Homo sapiens: one gene and its partners. The protein of the gene in region 1 interacts with the protein of each later gene in a pairwise test. Each region holds a gene or a part of one and is shown in the gene's direction. Other genes may lie near its edges.

Region 1 (7,493 bases):
AAAATACCACTAGGGTTTTTTTTTAGAAATTCAGTAAAGTTGTAAAATTTATTGCTTTAAAGTAAAAATAAGGACTTTTTTTTTCCCTTTGGTCGCCCAGGCTGGAGTGCAATGGCACGATCTCAACTCACTGCAACCTTCGCCTCCCGGGTTCAAGCAATTCCCCTGCCTCAGCCTCCCAAGTAGCTGGGATTACAGGCGCCTGCCACCACGTCCAGCTAATTTTTGTATTTTTAGTAGAGACGGGGTTTTACCATGTTGGCCAGGCTGGTCTCGATTTTGAGATGGAGTTTCCCTCTTGTTGCCCAGGCTGGAGTGCAATGGCACGATCTCCGCTAACTACAACCTCCGCCTCCTGGTTTCAAGCGATTCTCCTGCCTCAGCCTCCTGGGTAGCTGGAATTACAAGCGCCTGCCACCACGCCCAGCTAATTTTTTGTATTTTTAGTAGAGATGGGGTTTCACCATGTTGGCCAGGCTGGTCTCGAACTCCTGACCTCAGGTGACCCGCCTGCCTCAGCCTCTCAAAGTGCTGGGATTATAGATGTGAGCCACCATGCCCAGCCAAAATAAGGACTCTTTATGTTGCAGAGTCAGGCAAATAAATTAGAAAAAAAGATAAAACTGCCTTCACAAATGGCATGATTGTCTTTGCAGAAAACTAATACAATGTATGAAAAAACTACTGGAACAAATAAATGCGTTTAGCCAGGCTGCAGGATACAAAATCAACACACAAAAATCTGTTGTATTTCTATATACTGGCGACAAACACTGATAAATTAAAAATTTTAAACAACACCCTTTACAACCACATCAAGGTTATGCAATACTTGGAGGCAATTCTGAAAAGATGTGCAAGACCCTTACATTGAACACTACAAAATGGGGCTGAGAAAATTTATTTTTTAATTTATTTTTAATTTTTTAGAGACAGAGTCCCACCATGTGGCTCAGGCTGGTCTTGAACTCCTGAGCTCAAGTGATCCTCCCACCTCAACCTCCTAAGTAGCTGGGACTACAGGCGCACCACCAGCCCAGCTTTTTATATTTGTTGTAGAGATGGGGTTTCGCCACGTTACTGAGGCTGGTTTCCAACTCCTGGGCTCAAGCAATCCACCCTCCTCGGCCTCCCAAAGTGCTGGGATTACATAGCCATGAGCCTAGCTGAGAGAATTTAAAGACCCAAATAAACAGAGAGAAATACTATGTTCACTAGACAGAAGTTACCAGTTCTCCCTCAACTGACCTACAGATTCAACACAATTCCACTCAAAATGCCAGAAGCCTTTTTTTTTTTTTGTAGAAATTGACAAACGATTCTAAAATTTATATGGAAATGCAGGCTGGGCACTGTGGCTCACCTGTAATCCCAGCACTTTGGAAGGCTGAGGTGGGTGGATCACTTGCGGTCAGGAGTTCTAGACCAGCCTGGCCAACAGGGTGAAACCCCGTCTCTACTGAAAATACAAAAATTAGCCAGGTTTGGTGGTGCATGCCTGTATTCCCAGCTACTTGCAAGGCTGAGCCATGAGAATTACTTGAACGCAGGAGGTAGAGGCTGAAGCAAGCTGAGATTGCATCACTGCACTCCAGCTTGGGCAACAGAGCCAGACCTTGCCTCAAAAAAAAAAAAAAAAAAAAAAAAAAAAAAGGAAATACAGAGGACCTAAAATAACCCAAATAACTTTAAAAAAAAAAAAGTCAGAGAATTAACACTACCTGATTTCAACACTTATTTTAGAAAGCTATAGTAACCAAGACAGTCTGGTATTGGCATAAAGATAGATGAGTAAGTCAGGATAGAAAAGTCCAGAAAGGATCGTCATTTCGACAAATAATATGGGAACAACTGGATACCATGTTTTAAAATGAAAAAAACTTTGGCTTTCTAATTTTGCAATCTGATAGGTGTAATGAGGCATCTTGTTATTTTAATTTGGGTTTGTCAGGTTGCTGATGAATTTAAGCATCTCTCCATGTGCTTCTCCGGTATTTGGGTTTCTCCTACGAATTGCTTTTTTTTTTTTTTTTTTTTTTGAGACAGAGTCTCGCTCTGTGGCCCACGCCTGAGTTCAGTGGTGTGATTTCCGCTCCCTCCAACCTCTGCCTCCTGGGTTCAAGCGATTCTCCTGCCTCAGCCTCCTGAGTAGCTGGGATGACAGGCATGAACCACCACGCCCCACTGTTTTCGTATTTTTAGTAGAAACGGGGTTTCACTATGATGGCCAGGCTGTGAATTGCCTATTCTTATCTTCTGCACATTTGTCTATTGTCGGTCTTTTTCTCGTCGATTTACAAGCATTCCTTTTTTCATTCTGAATATTAATCCATTGCTTTCTGATGCTGTAACTAAGTCCTCCTAGTGGTTTGTCTTCTTGGTTAAGCCAGATGTTAACTTGGATTTTTCCTGCATAAAACTGAAGACTCAAGATGCATCAAGCACTGTATACAGAAAAGTGCTGCGTATCCTACAGAAAGCTACAGACAGTTGGGGGTCAGAATCATTCGGATTGTTTCAAGTTTGGGGCTATTATAAATAAAGCTGCTATAAACGTTTGCACACAGGTTTCTGTGAACAAAAATTTTCATTTCAACCAACTAATGTTTACGGTTCAATCATGATTTCACAACTTGAAGTAACTTTCACTCTTCTCATACTAAATTTGATATGTCGTCCACTGTTAAACTATTTCTTACCCTCAGATTATAATTATTAAACTTTTTTTTTTTTTTTTGAGAGGGAGTTTTGCTCTTGTGGCCCAGGCTGGAGTGCAATGGCAAAATCTCGGCTCACCGCAGACTCCGCCTCCCGGGTTCAAGCCATTCTCCTGCCTCAGCCTCCCGAGTAGCTGGGCTTACAGGCAAGCCATGCGCCACCAAGCCCGGCTAGTTTTGTATTTTTAGTAGAGACGAGGTTTCTCCATGCTGGCCAGGCTGGTCTCGAACTCCCGACCTCAGGTGATCCGCCCGCCTTGGCCTCCCAAAGTGCTGGGATTACAGGCGTGAGCCACCGTGACCGGCCTAATCATTAAACTTCTTTCAGCACTAGCCCCACTGATGTCACAACTTCACCCATTAGTCAATAACTTGTCTTTGCTGAATTCGACACTTTTGAATCATTTAAAAAATATTCTCTTAAATTTTATGTGCTATTTGCAATGTAACGGTTGTCGACATGACAGTTTTAAGTTTAATCTTTATCATCAACATTTTCTCTATCACTTTCTTCAGTTTAAGCAATCAACAAAACCACCGCTCCAGCACTGATTTGTAGCATTTGCGGGTTTCCCCCGTGTGACTTCCGCAGGACTGCCAAGTTCAAGCCGCCAGGGCCAGGGCACTGCTAGCAGCTGGGCTGAGCCCTGTTCTCCCGGCGTTCCCACCGCCCAGTGGCAATAGCTGTGAACGGCGGCAGGAGCATGGCAGTGGAACAATAAGGAAAAGATCTTTTAAAAAAAAGATATAATACAGAAGCCAAGCAAGGCGGCCCCGACCTGTAACCCCAGCACTCTGGGAGGCAGAGGCGGGCGGGCGGATCGCTTGAGCCCAGGAGTTTGAGACCAGCCTGGCCAACATAGGAAGGCCTCGTCAAAAAGACAAAAGGGTAAAACGAATTTAATAAAATGAAGTTTAACTTTTACTCATGTTTGTATCTAATGACAAGCTTTTAAAACTGAAAAGTTCACTACTGGCTCCTGCCTGGCGGCTCCAGCCCGACTGGGGGCCGGGGCCTCCCTGCACTGTGGGGTCACGAGTGCCCCTGGACAGCTCCCGAGCGCCCTCCGACCCGCATGCTCAGCGCAGCCCCGTCGGCGGCGCGCCACGGGCAGAGCGGGCTCAGCGGGGGACGGAAGCTCAGCGCTGCGACCGGGATCCCGCAGGCTCGCTCCGCAGGGCCGCGGCTCCTCTCCGTGCAGGTGCTGGGCCCGCGGGGGCGGGGCGTCCACACGGTCCGCGCCGAGACCCAAGCGGGGAAAAAGCGAAGAGCGGACAGCGGGGCAGGTGCCACAGGGAGCCTCCGCCCCACCGCGCGAGCAGCAAGTCTGCGGCGCTTGACACCTGCACTGCGAATGCCAGGCCGCAGCCCGGGCTCCCAAGACGCGAATACGCGCGCCTGCTCGTGACGTCATTTTTTGCGGTCTTCCCGAGAGCCAGCAGAGGGCGCCGCCATGATGTTTTACGGAAGCCGATAGTCCTTGCTCAGCGGCACCCCGTCCTTCCGGCTCTCGGCTTTGCCACAAAGCTTCCCGAAGACGCGGCCGCTACCCGGAGACGCGGTCGCCACCCAGAAGCGCTCTCCCGGGAAGCCCCGCTCGTGGGACCGCGCCACCTGCGCCGCCTCTGCGGCCCGCAGCCCGACGGGCGCCGCCATGTTGGGGTCCTAGCGAGGGACGCGTAGGTGTCTTCATAAGATGCCGGGGCAGCGGCGCGCGCTTTCCCCCAAGATGGCGTCCATGCGGGAGAGCGACACGGGCCTGTGGCTGCACAACAAGCTGGGGGCCACGGACGAGCTGTGGGCGCCGCCCAGCATCGCGTCCCTGCTCACGGCCGCGGTCATCGACAACATCCGTCTCTGCTTCCATGGCCTCTCGTCGGCAGTGAAGCTCAAGTTGCTACTCGGGACGCTGCACCTCCCGCGCCGCACGGTGGACGAGGTAAGGCAGGCGTGGCGCCCCGCGGCCCCCAGATTCCCAACCTTCCCACCTCCGACCCGCACACCCAACTCCGGACCCTCCTCGCTCCCTCCCCCAACCTTCCCATCCCCCTTCAGACTGTTAACCCCCCCGGCCCGCCCTCACGCCCCCTCCTCGCTCCTCCGAATACCTCCCTCCAGTCCTCACCTCCCCCTGGGTCCTCATCCCCCGCCTCGATCCTCATCTCCCACCTCGGTTCTCATCCCCACCGTGGGTCTTCAGGACCCCCCGCCCCTCCTCGCCCCCTGGGAATCCCCCACTAGGGTCCTCACCTCCCTACTTTTCGTCCTCACCCCTACCCAAGTTTTCACCTCCCCTGGGATCCTCAATCTCCTCCCCGCCGGGCCCCGGGTTCTCGCTACGACCCCCAGGTCCTCACTCCCCTCCCTGGGCCCCCGGGTACTCATCCCCACCCGCCCCCGCCTCCCCCGCCTTCGGTCCTCACCACCCTAATCCCCCACCGTGCCGAAGCGACCGACTCTTGGAGCGGGGGTGCGCCGGCCCCAGCGGGGTCTCCCATCGGGGTTTCCCGTCGGGGACGCAGCCCTGGTGACCTGGGCGAGGGCGGGGATCCCGAGAGAAACCCCCGCGTGAGGAAGGGGCGGCCTGGGCTCGGTAGCTCCAGTGTCCGCTGACTGGATTTTCTTGTTCTCACCTCGCAAAGACCCCGGCCGTCCGGAGCGCTCTGTGTCCGTTTTACTCTTTTCTACACGCCGTTTTGCGTCATTCCAATAAGTGGGTGTGTGAGGTTTGTTTTCTTTTTTCCTAAACTTTATATTGTATCGCTTTCCGTGCGAAATAAACCGAGTAGTTTTGCAGACTATTGAAGCCCCATGGTTGTTTAAACGTTCCTGGCTACTGATGTATTATTAGCTATTATAGGTTGTAATTGCTTTTGATTGAGATATGACATGTATGGAAAAGTGCATTTTTGTTCAGTTTAACGAATAATAATAGCATCGCGAGCCACTCCTGTGATCCTTACACAGGTGGAGAAGTAGAACCATGCCTGTTCCTTGGAAGCCTCCCACTGGTAATCACGGCCTTCTTCCTTTCCCCTTCCTCATTTTGGAAAGGTAATCATTTCTGTGCCATCTCCCCGGTGTGAGCAATTATTTATGCACCCCTAAATGGCACAGCTTGGTTGCCGGATTTGGAGTTAGTGTGATGGTATCATAGTGTATTTTGTGTGTGGCGTGCATGTGTCTTTTTGGTCGACGCCGTGACAGTTTCATCCACGTTGCAGCTGACTGCAGTTTAATTTTCACTGCTGCGTGGTATTCCTGTCTGTGAGCACGAGGCACTTTATCCATTCTGCCACAGTGACACGCTTAGCTTTTGTGCTCTTGTAAATCATCCCGTTACTACATTACGGTCATATGTTCAGGTGTTTGGAATCTTGGATTTCTCTAGGGTATAACATCTAGGAGTGGAATTGTGAGGATCATAGGATCATGCCAAATTATTTTTCAGAGTGTTTTGTTTTTGTGTTTGTGTTTTGTTTGAGACAGGGTCTGGCGCTGTCAACCAGGCTGGAGTGCAGTGGCACCATCGTGACTCACTGCAGCCTTGACCTCCTCACCTCAGATCTTCCCATCTCAGCCTCCTGAGTAGCTGGGACTACAGGGTTTCACCATGCTGCCCAGGCTGGTCTTGAACTCCTGACCTCAAGCAATCTGCTTGCCTCAGCCTCCTGAAGGGCTGGGATTACAGGTGTGAGCCATGGCACTCGGCCTGCTGTTTGGTTTTCTGCTTTGAGAATTGTATATTCAAATCTGCTTTTAAATTCTCTTTTTTCCCATTGTTTTGTAAGAGTGTCTTTTTTATTATTTATTATAAATGCTAGATATCAGTCCTTTTTCAGTTACAAATATCTCCCAGTTGTCCTTTGACTTTGACTTAGCTTCCTGGAATCCTTTTTTTTTTTTTTTTTTTTTTTTTTGAGACAGCGTCTCACTCTGTCACCCAGGCTAGAGTCTAGTGGTATAATCATAGCTCACTTTAACCTTGAACTCCTGGGCTTAAGCAGTCCTCCCTCCTAAACCTCTGTAGTAGCTGGGACTGATGCGCTGCCACCACGCCTGGCTAATTTTTGTGCATGTGTATGGAGATGGGGGTCTTACTGTATTGCCCAGGCTGGTCTTGAACTCCTAGCCTCAAGTGATCCTCCTGCCTTGGCCTCCCATAGTGTTGGGATTACAGGTGTGATCTGTGCGCCCAGCCCTTTTCCTGGAATCATGGATGAATAGAAGCTCCTAGTTTTAACATAGATGGTGTATTCATCCGCCCACTATCATTGGTGCCTATTGTGTCTCCCCGAGGGACATGCCCGGAACACTCCCTGGGTTATCTTGGCGTAGCTGTACAGTTTTACCTTTCGCACTTGAATCTTCAGTCTGCGTGGAATTGATGATTGTGTGAAGCAGGGAGTCTAATTTTCCACATGGATGTGCAATTAGTCCAGCACCCAACGTTGATTGAAATGACTGTCCTTTTCCATTGATCTGCACTGCAGCTTCTGCTGTGGATGTGTTTCTGGGCTGTGCTCTGTTCTTTTGGTCATTTACATATCGATGTGCTAATAACCCACTAAGTCGGTTCTTGTCACTTTATTTATAAGCCTTGTTAGCGGACGGAGCAAACCCTCCCACTGTATCTTTCTCCGGGATCATCTATGGCTATTCTTGTCCCTTCACACTTCCACATGTATCTTATATACTTACTTCTTAAACACGTAGAGCCTGCCTGCTGGGATTTTAAGGCTGAGCTGAACTTGCAGTTCATTCTGGGGTGCTGT
Region 2 (7,238 bases), on another chromosome or scaffold:
GAGGATCACTTGAGCCAGGGAGGCAGAGATTGCAGTGAGCTGAGACTGTACCACTGTACTGCAGCCTGGGTGACAGAGTGAGACCCTGTCAAAAAAAAAAAAAAAAAGAGAGAGAGAAAGAAAGAAAAAGAAAGAAAAGAAAAGAAAGAGAAAAGAGAAGAGAAAGGGAGGGAGGGAAACCTTCCTGTGTGTCCCCTGTGCACCTCCCTCTTCGAGCATCCTTACAGCTCTGGGACTTGCCCAAACCTTTCTCCCCAAACCACACACCCACAGAGTCTGGAGCAGGGCCGGAGTTTCCCCGGCTCCTCGGGTGTGTCAGCATCACACATCCCTCCCTGTCTCCCTGCTGCCAACCAGTTCCACCACTGTGCACCTCTGCCCCAATTCCACCTCCCACGCCTGCTGCTGCACCTTGGACTTGTTTTCCTGAAATTGCATGCCATCCACTCTCCCTTCTACTTCTGCTGCGTCCCTCTTGCCCTATCAGGACCTGTGGACTCAGGACTCCCGGGCTTTCTCCCCCATCTCTCTTCCCCGTTGGGCCTCACTACCATTTCAGCCACTTTCCTGGCAGCTTCACTCCTGCCCCAAGACCCCAGCCTCCACCCTCCTGGTTCTGCCAACTGTTGAGTGCAGAAAGATCACAGAACTCCAAGGATTTGGAGCTCAATGATTTCAGGGGCTCACTGGCATTCCCCTGCTCTGCCTAGAAATCCTTCCTGTGTCCTGGCCACACCCCCCTCCCCGGCGCCACCACAGCTAGTCCAGAAATTCCCCTGCCTCACAAGAACCCACTTCCTCTCCTCCCCTGTCCCTCCCGGCTTATTGCTTTATGAGCCAGCTAGAATCGAGGCCACAGGCAGCCGTTCTTCCTCCTACCATCAGACACTGAAACGGCCACCGACCATCAGACACTGAAACGGCCACCGTTAGCTCCTTCCTCTAGTCTAAGAGGAAGCGGGGTCCCTCCTACCTAAGGGGTTACCACAGTTCTTCCCTGTCCACATATAAGGTGTTCAAGCCTCCTCTATATGGAAATAATAGTCTCAATGACAAGAAGTCATCTTCTACACTAGAGTCTGACCTACCTGCCCATGACCTTCCCTCCCTTTGCAGACAAACCTCCTAAAAGAACATCTGTGCTCCGTATAACCCCTTCCTCTTCCCAGGCCTCACCCCACTGCATTCTGACTGCTTTTTATAACCCAGGCCCTTCTTCTTTGCTCCAGGTTCTTAATCTTTTTTTTTTTTTCCTGAGATGGAGTCTCGCTCTGTCACCCAGGCTGGGAGTGCAGTGGCACGATCTCTGCTTACTGCAACCTCTGCTTCCTGGGTTCAAGCGATTCTGCCTCAGCCTCCCTAGTAGCTGGGATTACAGGTGCCCGCCACCACACCCAGCTAATTTTTGTCTTTTTAGTAGAGACAGGGTTTCACCATGTTGGCCAGGCTGGTCTTCAGCTCCTGACCTCAGGTGATCCGCCTGCGTCAGCCTCCCAGAGTGCTGGGATTACAGATGTGAGCCACTGCGCCTGGCCTTTTTCCTTTTTTTTTCCTTTTTTTTTTTTTTTTGAGACAGAGTCTCATTCTGTTTCCCAGGCTGGAGTGCAGTGGCGCAATCTTGGCTCACTGCGACATCCACCTCCCCGGTTCAAGTGATTCTCGTGCCTCAGCCTCCCAAGTAGTCGGGCCTGGGTAACTTTTGTATTTTTAGTAGAGACAGGGTTTTCGCTTGTTGGCCAGGCTGGTCTTGAGCTCCTGGCCTCAAGTGATCTGCTTGTCTTGCCCTCCCAAAGTGTTGGGATTACAGTGTTGGGAGCCACCGCGCCACGCCCCGATTCCTCTCTGACCTGTGTCAGCACTGGGGCTAACAGAAGCTGAGACACACAGGCAACCTCATGTTTCAAATGAGTTCATTGCCTAAGGGTAGCCTGTATAGACAGCTAGGCAGGATGACACCCTGAATTCTGCCCTCAGGCTGTGCTATAAATGACCTAGACTAGAGGAAAGGGCAGGCAGAGCCTTTATCTCAAACAGCGTCAAAAGAAAACAATGTAATAGCCTAGAACATTGAATCTATTTATTTACTTATTTTGAGACAGAGTCTCACTCTGTTGCCCAGGCTGGAGTGCAGTGGCTTGATCTCGGCTCACTGCAACGTCTGCCTCCCAGGTTCAAGCGATTCTCCTGCCTCAGCCTCCCGAGTAGCTGGGTTTACAGGTGCCAGCTACCACACCTGGCTAATTTTTGTATTTTTAGTAGAGACGGGGTTTTGCCGTGTTGGCCAAGCTGGTCATGAACTCCTGACCTCAGGTGATCCACCCATCTCGGAAATCTATTTATTAAAGTGCTCAGAGAGCAGAAAGAGCATGAGTGCAAAAAATTTTTTTAACTTTTTTTTTTCTCTTGCAAGCTATGACTGGGGAAAAAAGAAAGAAAAAAAAAATGTCAGCAATGCACAGTGGCTCACGCCTATAATCCATGCATGTTGGGAGGCCGAGGCGGGCAGATCACTTGACCCCAGGAGTTTGAAACCAGCCTGGGCAACATGGCGAGACCCCATCTCTACAAGAAATACAAAAATTAGCTGGGTGTGGTGGTGCGTCCCTGTAGTCCCAGCTCCTCAGGAAGCTGAGATGATCACCTGAGCCTGGGAGGTGGAGGCTACATTGAGCCATGATTGAGCCACTGCATTCCAGCCCAAGTGACAGAGCAACACCCTGTCTCAAAAAAAAAATTTTTTTTTTTAGGTGGAGTCTTGCTCTGTTGCCCAGGCTGGAGTGCAGTGGCGTGATCTTGGCTCACTGCAACCTCCACCTCCTGGGTTCAAGCAATTCTCCTGCCTCAGCCTTCCAAGTAGCTGGGATTACAGGCATGCACCACTACACGCGGCTAATTTTTGTATTTTTAGTAGAGATGGGGTTTCATCATGTTGGCCAGGCTGGTCTTGAACTCCTGACCTCAAGTGTTCCACATGCCTTGGCCTCCCAAAGTGCTGAGATTACAGGTGTGAGCCAGTTCACCTGTCAAAAGAAAGAAAATTTTTAAAAAGTCTCTCGGAGATGTCTTTCCTGTTTGGTGCCACCTGAATAGTGGCAAACCTTTCCATTATGTATCAGGTCACCACCGCATCTGCTAGAAGCCCCCCTCGTCCAGGGTGGGATGACCTGCTCCTATAAAGCCAAACTTACCGGGAGCTCAGTCTCTTGGATTTTTAAAATATGGGTGTCTCTTTTCCCCGGTTCCTGATGACATTGTGTCCCAAGGTGCCAAGGGGGCCTTTCCCTCAGTCCAGAGGGGTTTTCTGACCACCTGCTAAGTTCCAGACACGGGCCGACTGTGCATGACAGGCCCACGGTTCTAGGCCCAAATACTCAGTTGCCTTTGCCCCATATGCTGTTATTGTCCACATCACTTGCTGCCAAAACCCAGGACTGAGCTGTGGAGGGAACAGCTGGAATGCACCTTGGAGGACGTTGTTGACACGCCGCTCAGTCGCCGTTCGTGCCCTGGTGTTTGTCTTGCAGACAGAGGCTCCGTGGTGAAGGCGCGCGTGCTGACCTGTGTGGAGGGGATGAACCTGCCCTTGTTGGAACAAGCCATCCGGGAGCAGAGACTGTACAAGCAGGAGCGGGGCGGCAGCCAGTAGGAAACAGCAGCCTAGCAACACCCTCACCTGCTTCAGAGCCCGAACCCTCTGGAGCTGCAGGAGCCCGGGAGAGCACAGACGCCTCCCCAGCGACGGCCTTGTCTGGAGCTCGAAAGCCGAGGGGCGGGTGATGAATCCAGCCCCTTCCCCTACTTTGGGATTGGCTCAGCAATGAGAACCCAGAAAGCATGCCATAAATCCGACAGCCCCACCCCAGGAGACTGCAGGTGGCCGAGCTTGGGCGCCGGGGCCGTGCTTGGTGTGGGGCCATGGAGGGTTCCAGAAGGTCCTGGTGAATAAAGGCCCAGGGGGCGTGCTCTTGAAGTGTGCTCGTGGTGCAGCGCCGGCGGGGGCCAGGAGGGGGAGCTGCAACCCAGGCTGTGGGCTGCAGCCTCTCAGGGCTTCTGGTGAATTCTGGGCCTGGGGCCTCAGGGTAGGGCACCAGGGGCCCAGGGGCTGGGGTGGGGGGCCCAGGATGCAGGGGTCTGCCCCTGGCCAGGCTCTGCCTTCAGAGGAGGCTGAGCGTCGTCACACGGGCCGGGCTGAGGCCCTGGGCCCTGACCGTGCAGCCTAAGACAGGACTGTGGCTTTAAGACCCTCCTGACCCCTGACCTCTGCCCCCAGTGGCCCTGGCCCCTGGGCAGCCCTTCCTGGCCGCCATGTGTACCCAGAGCCTGGGACTGGCTGGGCTGGGCAGTGACCCAGGTGGGAAAGGGTGGTCTTGCCCTCTAAGGCCCGGCACAAGTGAGAGGCCTGGGGGTCCATGTTGGGCTGGGCTGGGCGAGGGGTGGTCTCTGACTTCCTGGGGGTTCTGGCTGGGATGGGCAGGGGGCTGGGTGGGAGAGTGTGGGCCCTGCCCTCCGAGGCCGGGCATGGGCGAGAAGCCTGGGGGTCCTGGCTGAACTGGGCTGGGTGAAGGGGGCCCCCTGACCCCCTTGGGGTCCGGGCTGGGCTGGGTGAGGGGCGGTTTCCGACCCCCAGCCAGGTTCCCAGGCAGGATGAGCTGGGGTTGGGGTGGCTAGGCCGTGGGCCTTGGGAGCTGGGCAGTCTGGGCTGGGCTGGGCTGGGCAGGGCGCCACATGGAAGCTGGAGGAGCAACGGGAGCGCTGGGCGTGGGGTGCAAATTGCCCGGTGCCTTCTGTTTCCCAGGCAGCTCTGTGGCCATGGATATGTTCCAGAAGGTAGAGAAGATCGGAGAGGGCACCTATGGGGTGGTGTACAAGGCCAAGAACAGGGAGACAGGGCAGCTGGTGGCCCTGAAGAAGATCAGACTGGATTTGTGAGTGCTGGGACGGCCCCTGAGTTACCCACCCTGGGCCATCACAACCTGGGCGCTCCCTGATCCGTTCCCTCTTTCCTGGAGTCCACGTTTAACTCCTCTGGGTGCTGCCCAGCAGCCCTTACCTGTCCTCTCCCCAGTTCACTGCCTTCTGACCAGCCTTTGCCGGGGCCCTGACTGTGGAGTTTGGTGGATGACGTGCCAAGGAGCACAGGTCTCCATTGCCGGGGCCCTGGTCATTCTGTGGGGTTAAGGAGAAGCCGATCCCCCTGGCTGGAAGTGCCCTTCTTGGCCCAAGTCTCTGCCCACGGCTGTGCCCTTGTTTCTTGCAGGGAGATGGAGGGGGTCCCAAGCACTGCCATCAGGGAGATCTCGCTGCTCAAGGAACTGAAGCACCCCAACATCGTCCGGTGAGTTGGGGATTGAGGTGGGGAAGCTGGGATGGCGAAGGTAGCATCCTGACTGCCATCTCCCTGTCAGACTGCTGGACGTGGTGCACAACGAGAGGAAGCTCTATCTGGTGTTTGAGTTCCTCAGCCAGGACCTGAAGAAGTACATGGACTCCACCCCAGGCTCAGAGCTCCCCCTGCACCTCATCAAGGTAGGGAAGGAAGGGCAGGGAAGGAGAGGTGACACCCCATCCCTGCCATCCCTGTCCACGCAGCACCTCCGCTCAGCTGGCTGCACCTCGCGCTCGTTTCTCCAGAGCTACCTCTTCCAGCTGCTGCAGGGGGTGAGTTTCTGCCACTCACATCGGGTCATCCACCGAGACCTGAAGCCCCAGAACCTGCTCATCAATGAGTTGGGTGCCATCAAGCTGGCTGACTTCGGCCTGGCTCGCGCCTTCGGGGTGCCCCTGCGCACCTACACCCATGAGGTATTGTGAGACAAAGAGGAGAGAGGGGCAGCAGGAGGAGTGTCACCCATGCACTCAGCCACCCTGAGTGATACTGTTTCTTTGCCCTGCAGGTGGTGACACTGTGGTATCGCGCCCCCGAGATTCTCTTGGGCAGCAAGTTCTATACCACAGCTGTGGATATCTGGAGCATTGGTTGCATCTTTGCAGAGATGGTAGAGAGAGGGGCACACATGGCCACAGGGTGCCACAGGCAGGGTCCTACTGGGGTTGGGTGGGGTCCACTGATGCTCCCATTCGAGGCGGATTAAAGAGTGTTTGGGGCTGGACATGGCTCACGCCCGTAATCCCAGCACTTTGGGAGGCTGAGATGGGAGGATGGCTTGAGCCCAGGAGTTTGAGACCAGCCTGGGCAACGTAACAAATCCCCAGCTCTTAAAAAACTACAAAAATTAGCTGGGTGTGGTGGTGCATGCTTGTAGTCCCAGCTACTTGGGAGGTTGAGGCAGGAGGATTGCTTGAGCCTGTGGTTGAGGCTGCAGTGAGCTGTGATCGCACGACTGCACTCTAGCCTGGGTGACAGAGCAAGACTCCGTCTCTATTTTTTAAAAAAAGGTGTTTGGTACTGGCTAAAGGACTGAGGAAGGTAGCTTTATTCCAAAAGAGGCCAGAATTCTTTGCACAGTCATGGAAAAGATATCTTGACAGGCCTCTCCCTGGGTCTGGCCACTTATCTGGTATTGGATTCTGTATAACAAAGTGGCGGACCCCACACCTTCTCTTCTTCCCCATTTCAGGTGACTCGAAAAGCCCTGTTTCCTGGTGACTCTGAGATTGACCAGCTCTTTCGTATCTTTCGTATGCTGGGGACACCCAGCGAAGACACATGGCCCGGGGTCACCCAGCTGCCTGACTATAAGGGCAGCTTCCCTAAGTGGACCAGGAAGGGACTGGAAGAGATTGTGCCCAATCTGGAGCCAGAGGGCAGGGACCTGCTCATGGTAGGTGCATGTGGGCTCCAGCTGCTGCTCCGACTACAGTTTCCCCTCATCAGCCAGCCTCTTACATAACCCTGGCACTTTCTGAGTCCAAGGCCAGGGTCTCTTTCCTGACCTTTGTACACAACTGGCTTGGGTATACTGATTGTTCAACCCGGAAGCCTCCCCCAGGATAAGTGCAGTATTTATCTTCCCTGTGAAAGTGGCGCTCATTGAGTTAGCTCTGTCTTTATGCTGTGCTACACGCCCTTTTTCCCTAGTTGTCTTGTGTGTTTGGTTATTCTACTTTGTGGACATTACTGCTCCATCTAAGCTGTATGCCTCCCCAGGCTGGGGCCATACCTTCTTTTCTTTTCTTTTTTTTGAGATGGAGTTTTGCTCTTGTTGCCCGGGCTGGAGTGCAATGGCGTGATCTCAGCTCACTGCAACTTCTGCCTCCTGGGTTCAAGTCATTCTCCT
Region 3 (6,711 bases), on another chromosome or scaffold:
CATCTGGTGTGCGTCTATTAAATACCAGCTGTGTCCACGTTCCTGTTCTAGCTGCCTGGGAGTCAGAGGCTGTGTGCCTTGAGGGAGCTCCTGGCTGAGTCTCCCTCTCTGTGCTCTGTCCTGGGCCCAGCCCTCAGGAGGTGGGGACAGAAAGAGCTGGACAGGGCCGGGGGCGGTGGCTCACGCCTGTAATCCCAGCACTTTGGGAGGCTGAGGCAGGCAGATCATTTGAAGTCGGGAGTTCAAAACCAGCCTAGCCATCATGGTGAAACCCTATCTCTACTAAAAATACAAAAATTAGCCGGGCCTGGTGGCGGGCACCTGTAATTCCAGCCACTCAGGAGGCTGAGGCAGGAGAATCACTTGAACCCAGGAGGCGGATGTTGCAGTGAGCCAAGATTGTGCCACCGCACTCCAGCCTGGGCAACAGAGCAAGACTCTATCTCAAAAAAAAAAAAAAAAAAAGAGCTGGACACACTCTAAGTCTCAGAGGGTCAGGGTCGGGCAGCGGGGGACAAATGTGGGAGGCTTCCTGGAAGAGGGGGCATTGGGACTGGGTTTGGATGGTTAAGTAGAAGCTCTCCAGTGGAGGAGACGATGAGGAAAGGAACATTCCTGATGAAGGGATTGATTGGCACATGCAGAGGCCCAGCAAAGGAGCCAGACCATTTGGGCCAAGTGTGTCCTAGACTGTGGGTAGAAGGGAGGCTCCAGGGCCTCAGCAGCTGGGGTGGAGGCCAAGCTCCACTTGTGTGTATTTTTTTCCCTCCAGCTGGACATCCGTGGCAAACTTTACCTGGCCCCCCTCACCACGGTAGGACCTGGGTCAGGTGGCTGGTCGGGTGGCAGGGTGGCAGTGTGGTCATTCCAACAGGGCTTAGTGTCTGTCCCCACCTACTGGATTGTGGGGCTGGGGCGCATATTCAGGGTTCTGCTGTGTGTGTGTGTGTGTGCGCGTGCAAGAGCATGTGTGTCTGTCCTGCTCCCCCCGCAGTGTGGGAACCTGCCCTTCCGACGGATCTGCAAGCGCTTCGGGGCGGATGTGACATGTGGAGAGATGGCCGTCTGCACCAACCTGCTGCAGGGCCAGATGTCCGAGTGGGCCCTACTCAAACGCCACCAGTGTGAGGACATCTTTGGCGTCCAGGTCAGTGCCCACCCCGAGGGAGGGAGAGTGGAGGGGCCCTCGGCCGTCCTGTCTCAGAGCCAGGTTCCAGGTCTGCCCTGGTTGCCTCCCTGACCCCCTGGCCTCAGCTGTGGAGTGGGGGTGATGCCCTGATCCACCTCTGGGGGCTGATGGCCGTGGCCGGGGACCGGTGCCTCGCAGACAGACCTTGGCTCCTTCCGGGGAGGCCCCGAGAGAGGAGGCCACTGGCTCAGGGCCCCCCAGTGGGGAGGGAACGGCCAAGTGGGGACAGTTCGGACTCTCCCCTCACCCTCCTGTTCTGCCACTACCCACCTACAGCTGGAGGGCGCCTTCCCCGACACCATGACCAAGTGTGCCGAGCTGCTGAGCCGCACCGTGGAGGTGGACTTTGTGGACATCAACGTCGGCTGCCCCATCGACCTCGTGTACAAGAAGGTAGCGGCCCTGGACGTGTGCCTCGGTTTCCCCATCTGGGCAGGGAGGCACTGACCCAGCCGGCGATGTCTCGGTGGAGGGTCAGGGGTTTGGGCTCAAGTGTGGCCCTGGAGTCCCTGCCTTTCCTGCAGGTCGGCGTCTCCTGGTGGGGGCCTCCGGGCAGCAGGGGTGAGGGGTCTTGGGTCAGCCCACGTCCTGCCCTCCCTCCACCCGCCTGTCTCTTCCAGGGTGGGGGCTGTGCCCTCATGAATCGCTCCACCAAGTTCCAGCAGATCGTCCGTGGCATGAACCAGGTACGGCCAGCCACATCCTCGCACTGGCTCCCAAACAACTCCCCCGGGCCCTGTCTCCCACCACCTCCCACCGTCTCCCACCACCTCCCACCATCTCCCACCACCTCCCACCACCGTCCTGTAGGTGCTGGATGTGCCGCTGACTGTGAAGATCCGCACAGGCGTCCAGGAGCGTGTGAACCTGGCGCACCGCCTGCTGCCCGAGCTGCGGGACTGGGGCGTGGCACTCGTCACGGTGGGTCTTGGGACGCCTCGGGCATTGGGGCCTCGCGGTCGACCCCGCGTCCCTTCCTAATGGCTCCTCTCCTCCCATCCCTCCCTCTTCACCTCCACACCTCCCTCTGTCTCCGCCTGTGTCTCTCTCTGTCTCTCTCAGCCTGGCTCTCTTGGTCTCTTCCTCTCTGCGTCTCACTCTCTGCCTCCTACCCTGCGTGGCGGCTTCTCCCCCAGCTCCACGGCCGCTCTCGGGAGCAGCGCTACACCAAGCTAGCCGACTGGCAGTACATCGAGGAGTGCGTGCAGGCCGCCAGCCCCATGCCCCTGTTCGGTGGGTGTTCCGGGAAGCCACCTCCCTCTCCCCTACCACCCTTGGTCACTCACACCTCTGGGCTGTTCGCCTTCCCACTTGGGACCCCCTCGTACCACCCTGATGGGAGCCACTGGGTCAGCCAAAACTCCTGAAGGGCTGGTGAGCAGAACTCCAGGGTCCCACCTGCCCATGTCTCCCTGAGACCCCAGCCTCTGTCTCCTCAGGAAATGGGGACATCTTGTCATTTGAGGATGCCAACCGCGCCATGCAGACTGGTGTCACCGGGATCATGATTGCCCGGTAAGTGCCCAGGGATGTTAGAGATCCAGCTTCATGCACAGCAGCAGTGCCCTGAACCCAACACGCCGTCACCCACCCCTGTTCTGTGGTGGGCTGTTGGTCCCAAGATGGGAGGAGCAGAGAGCGATGTCAGGAGTTGCAGCTGCGTTGCGGCAGAGGGGACTGGAAATTGCTGCTGCTGTGGGATCTGATGATTGTGGGTTGAAAGTCCTGGGCTTTGGCCAGGTGTGTGGCTCACGCCTGTAATCCCAGCACTTTGGGAGGCCAAGGCACGCCGATCATTTGAGGTCGGAGGTTCAAGACTAGCCTGACCAACATGGTGAAACATCTCTATTAAAAATACAAAAATTAGCCAGGTGTAGTGGTACACGCCTGTAATCCCAACTACTAGGGAGGCTGAGGCAGGACAATTGCCTGAACCTGGGAGACGGAGGTTGAACAGTGAGCCGAGATCTTACCACTGCACCCCAGCCTGGGCGACAGAGCCAGACTCCGTCTCAGAAAAAACAAAAGAAAGTCCTGTGCTTTGAAGGTTGTGTGCATGCAGCTGGGAGGCTTACTAGGCTTGTAGGTTTTGTGGTCTGGGCTCCGGCTCAGGCCAGGCCATGGAAGCAGAGGCCACACGATCCCAGGCAGGCTGGTGGCTGGGCCCACTGATCGTCACCCGTCCCACAGTGGCGCCCTGCTCAAGCCGTGGCTCTTCACGGAGATCAAGGAGCAGCGGCACTGGGACATCTCGTCGTCCGAGCGCCTGGACATCCTGCGGGACTTCACCAACTACGGCCTGGAGCACTGGGGCTCGGACACGCAGGGCGTGGAGAAGACCCGGCGCTTTCTGCTCGAGTGGCTGTCCTTCCTGTGCCGGTGGGCACCGGGGCTGGCTGGGGTGGGCGGCGCGTGGGCCGCGGCTGGTTAGAGCTGACTCAAGCCTGTCCTGCCCGCCCACCCGCCGCAGGTACGTGCCCGTGGGGCTGCTGGAGCGGCTCCCACAGAGGATCAACGAGCGGCCGCCCTACTACCTGGGCCGCGACTACCTGGAGACGCTGATGGCCAGCCAGAAGGCAGCCGACTGGATCCGCATCAGGTGCCTGGGTGGGCTGGAGTTGGGGAGCTGCAGTCGGGGGCCCGGGGTCACGGAGGGTACTTTGCAGGTCCTGGGCCTGACCTCGCTTTCCACCTGCTCTCCCACAGCGAGATGCTCCTTGGGCCAGTGCCCCCCAGCTTCGCCTTCTTGCCGAAGCACAAGGCCAACGCGTACAAGTAGCCTCAGGCTTTCCCAGGGGCACCCTGGGGCGAGGAGAGTACAATAAATTTTATTCTTTTAAAATCCAGGCCTTTCTGTGACCCTGAAGCAGCCCCTCCTCGGCCCCCACCTTCCCCAAACCTCTTAGCTGCCTCCATGGGCCCTGCCCCAAGCTGGGTGCTGCTGGTGCCCAGAGAGGCCTTGACCCCCAAGAAGGTAGCGGGTTGAGGACCCGGGGGGCCTCAGCCTGTGTGGGTGTGGATCAGGGCAGCCTGCCTGGAGGAGGCGGCCTCAAAGCTGTTAGGGGGGTGTTGCTGGAAGAGGCAAAGGCCTGGCCCAGAATCCTCCCTCCCATGGTGATGACCATGTCTGCCAACGTCTGCCCCTGCTTGCCCCCAACACCCAGAACCCCAACCAGTGGGCGCGCTGCAGGCTGGAACCCGCTGCCCCGAGTAACCAGGCAAACAGAACCCCACCAGGTTCTCAGCCTGTTCTCCGGTTGGGCCACTTGCACTCCCACTGCCGCCCTCCTGGCCTGTCTGGACCGGGCCCCCCGCTGCCCCATGCAGCACCCCAAACCGTTCTGTGCCCCTGCAGCTCCCCAGGAAGGTTTCAGCCCGCAGAGTCTGGAGGGGGCTGAGGTGCTGGGCAACCAGCCTGCTCCCACCTGTGCCGAGCCTCCTCCCGCTATGGGTACGATCGGGTGGGTGGGAGCACCTGCTGGAGAGGGTTCAGGGGCCCACCCGCCTAAGGGCCCTACCCACCTGGGCACCTTTGTCCACAGGCTCCTTGAACCTGTATCATCCCCCAGACCCAGAGAAAGAGGTGTTTCCAGCCCCACCAGCAGGTACCGGCCTCCCCTGAGCCCTTGACGAGGCTGGGAGTGGGTTTGAGTGTGCAGGCCCATCTTGCCCCTGCCCCGTCCCTAAGTGGGAGCCTGAAGGCATGGCCTCTGCTCCCCATGCTTCACACAGGTCCCCCAGATGAGCCCCAAAGACAAGCTCTGTGTCATCCATCACCCAGCCAGGGCCCCAAAGCAATATCTATGTCGTCCCCCAAAGGGGCCCCCCAATGGCAAGGTTCTTGTGGCATCTCCCAAACAGGCCCCCAGGCTTGGGCTGGGCCCCTCAGGCAGCAGCTGCTCTCAGGGCACCCGCCTGCCGCCCACAGGTTTCCAGATGGCCCCATGCGGGTGCTTCTTCGACCCCCGCATCTATCGGATCGAGTGGACCACCCCCGACCTGGGCCAGTCAGCCCTGTATAAGCTGGCAGCAAGCAGCGGGGGGCCAGCGGGGGTCCCCTCCGCCCCAGGCAGCTACCTCCTGGAGCCTCAGCCCTACCTCAAGGCCCCGGGGCTGCCTCCATACCCCCACTACCAGCAGGCACCCGGGGGGCCCCAGTTTCTCTTGCCCTACTTCCCGCCTGAGGGCCCCGGGCCAGAGGCTCTGGGTTTTGTGGGGGACGCAGGGCCCGCCGCCTTCGTGGAGCTGCCCCTACCGCCCCTAGAGGAAGGCCCGGCCCCGCTGCCACCCCCACCCCCCAAGGAGAACAAGCCGCCCCCTGTACTCATCACGCTGCCTGCAGAGCCCACACTGCCCCCAGACGCCTACAGCCACCTCCAGGGTCACCTCGGCCACTTCCCTGGGCCCGAACCCCTGGCCTTCCCCGTCAAGGAGCTGCAGGGCAGTGGGGCCCGACCTGGGGTGCCCCTGTACCCACCGGGCCTCAGCGAGCTCAAGGTGGCCGAGGTCAAGGAGGGGGCCCTGCTGGGAGCAGGCAAGGCCAAGGCCCCCAAGACGGCCAGAGCTTTGGCACTGCCTGACAAGGTTCTGCTGGAGGACGCCATGAAGCTCTTCGACTGCCTGCCAGGCGCCTCTGAGCCTGAGGGTACCCTGTGCGAGGTCCCTGGGCCGGCCCTGCCTGACAGCAGTGGTGGGAACTCAGCCGATGACATCCGCTCGCTGTGCCTGCCCGAGGAGCTGCTGTCCTTTGACTACAGCGTGCCTGAGATCCTGGACACCGTGTCCAACGTTGACTACTTCTTCAACTTCAAGGCGCTCGACGAGGAGCAGCCGCCCCACCCGGGGCCCCCTGCCACCAACACCCCGGCCCCCATTCTGTCTGGCAAGAGAAAGGCCTCGACGGCCAAGAAGGGAAAGCCGGGAAGGAAGGCCAGGCAGCCGGCAGGCCCAGCCAGCGCCACTCCCCCGGGGCCCAGGGAGGACCTGGGAGCCACCCCGCATTAAAGCACATTTGACCTTTCAGCTCCATGTCCACGTGGGGGCCTTGGGGATGGGGAGGGGGCTGGAGATGCACGCCTGGCCCCTCACCCCATCATCCCGCGGACTGGCAAGGCAGCGCCCCCGGCCTCACAGTGAGGCCTCTTAGCAGGGGAGCCCCGGAATCACAGGACACCCTAAACTCCTTGAGTCCCAGCCCTGGAACATCAGACTCCTCTGGCAGAGGCAGGGGCCTCCTGGGGCACGAGGGAGCTGACCCCCAGACTCAACGCGTTCTAAGGGTTTTCACCCCTTTGTTTGGTGGGGGAAAGCAAGGCTGCCCAGAGCAGCAGGAACTTCCTTGGAGACACACAGCCATCAGGGCAGGGCTTGAGGAGCATCCTCCAGATCCCCACCCAGCTGCCTCCTGTCCCCAGGAAGCCACAGCCACTGCAGGCAGGGCGGGAAGGGCCACGCTCTTGTTCAGACAGACAGGTGGGTGCAGGGGCTTCACCTGATGGTCTGAGGGTGGGGGCTGGGGCAGG

The links. Proteins that work in one complex are often made in the same cells at the same time.
Region 2: the proteins of NELFA (region 1) and CDK3 interact in binary tests that used the Homo sapiens proteins (3 or more experiments, as listed by UniProt).
Region 3: the proteins of NELFA (region 1) and PRR22 interact in a two-hybrid assay, tested with the Homo sapiens proteins (2 studies listed by BioGRID).

Annotation. Positions count from the first base shown.
Region 1 is NC_000004.12:2,005,914-2,013,406, reverse strand, and holds the start of NELFA (negative elongation factor A), read left to right. Parts: upstream 1-4,432; 5' UTR 4,433-4,447; coding exon 4,448-4,657; intron 4,658-5,360; coding exon of another isoform or gene 5,361-5,444; intron 5,445-7,493. Other genes in the region: uncharacterized protein LOC124900839, read left to right, coding at 3,646-4,401. UniProt on the Homo sapiens protein: Essential component of the NELF complex, a complex that negatively regulates the elongation of transcription by RNA polymerase II.
Region 2 is NC_000017.11:75,996,617-76,003,854, forward strand, and holds the start of CDK3 (cyclin-dependent kinase 3), read left to right. Parts: upstream 1-4,238; 5' UTR 4,239-4,351; exon of another isoform or gene 4,352-4,795; 5' UTR 4,796-4,809; coding exon 4,810-4,925; intron 4,926-5,257; coding exon 5,258-5,335; intron 5,336-5,405; coding exon 5,406-5,526; intron 5,527-5,631; coding exon 5,632-5,802; intron 5,803-5,894; coding exon 5,895-5,996; intron 5,997-6,578; coding exon 6,579-6,782; intron 6,783-7,238. Other genes in the region: CST complex subunit TEN1, read left to right, coding at 3,525-3,646. UniProt on the Homo sapiens protein: Serine/threonine-protein kinase that plays a critical role in the control of the eukaryotic cell cycle; involved in G0-G1 and G1-S cell cycle transitions. Interacts with CCNC/cyclin-C during interphase. Phosphorylates histone H1, ATF1, RB1 and CABLES1.
Region 3 is NC_000019.10:5,782,460-5,789,170, reverse strand, and holds PRR22 (proline-rich protein 22), read left to right. Parts: upstream 1-4,424; 5' UTR 4,425-4,510; coding exon 4,511-4,640; intron 4,641-4,731; coding exon 4,732-4,794; intron 4,795-5,117; coding exon 5,118-6,193; 3' UTR 6,194-6,211; downstream 6,212-6,711. Other genes in the region: DUS3L (tRNA-dihydrouridine(47) synthase [NAD(P)(+)]-like), read left to right, coding at 773-814, 995-1,147, 1,466-1,582, 1,810-1,875, 2,000-2,110, 2,326-2,422, 2,629-2,704, 3,380-3,568 and 2 more.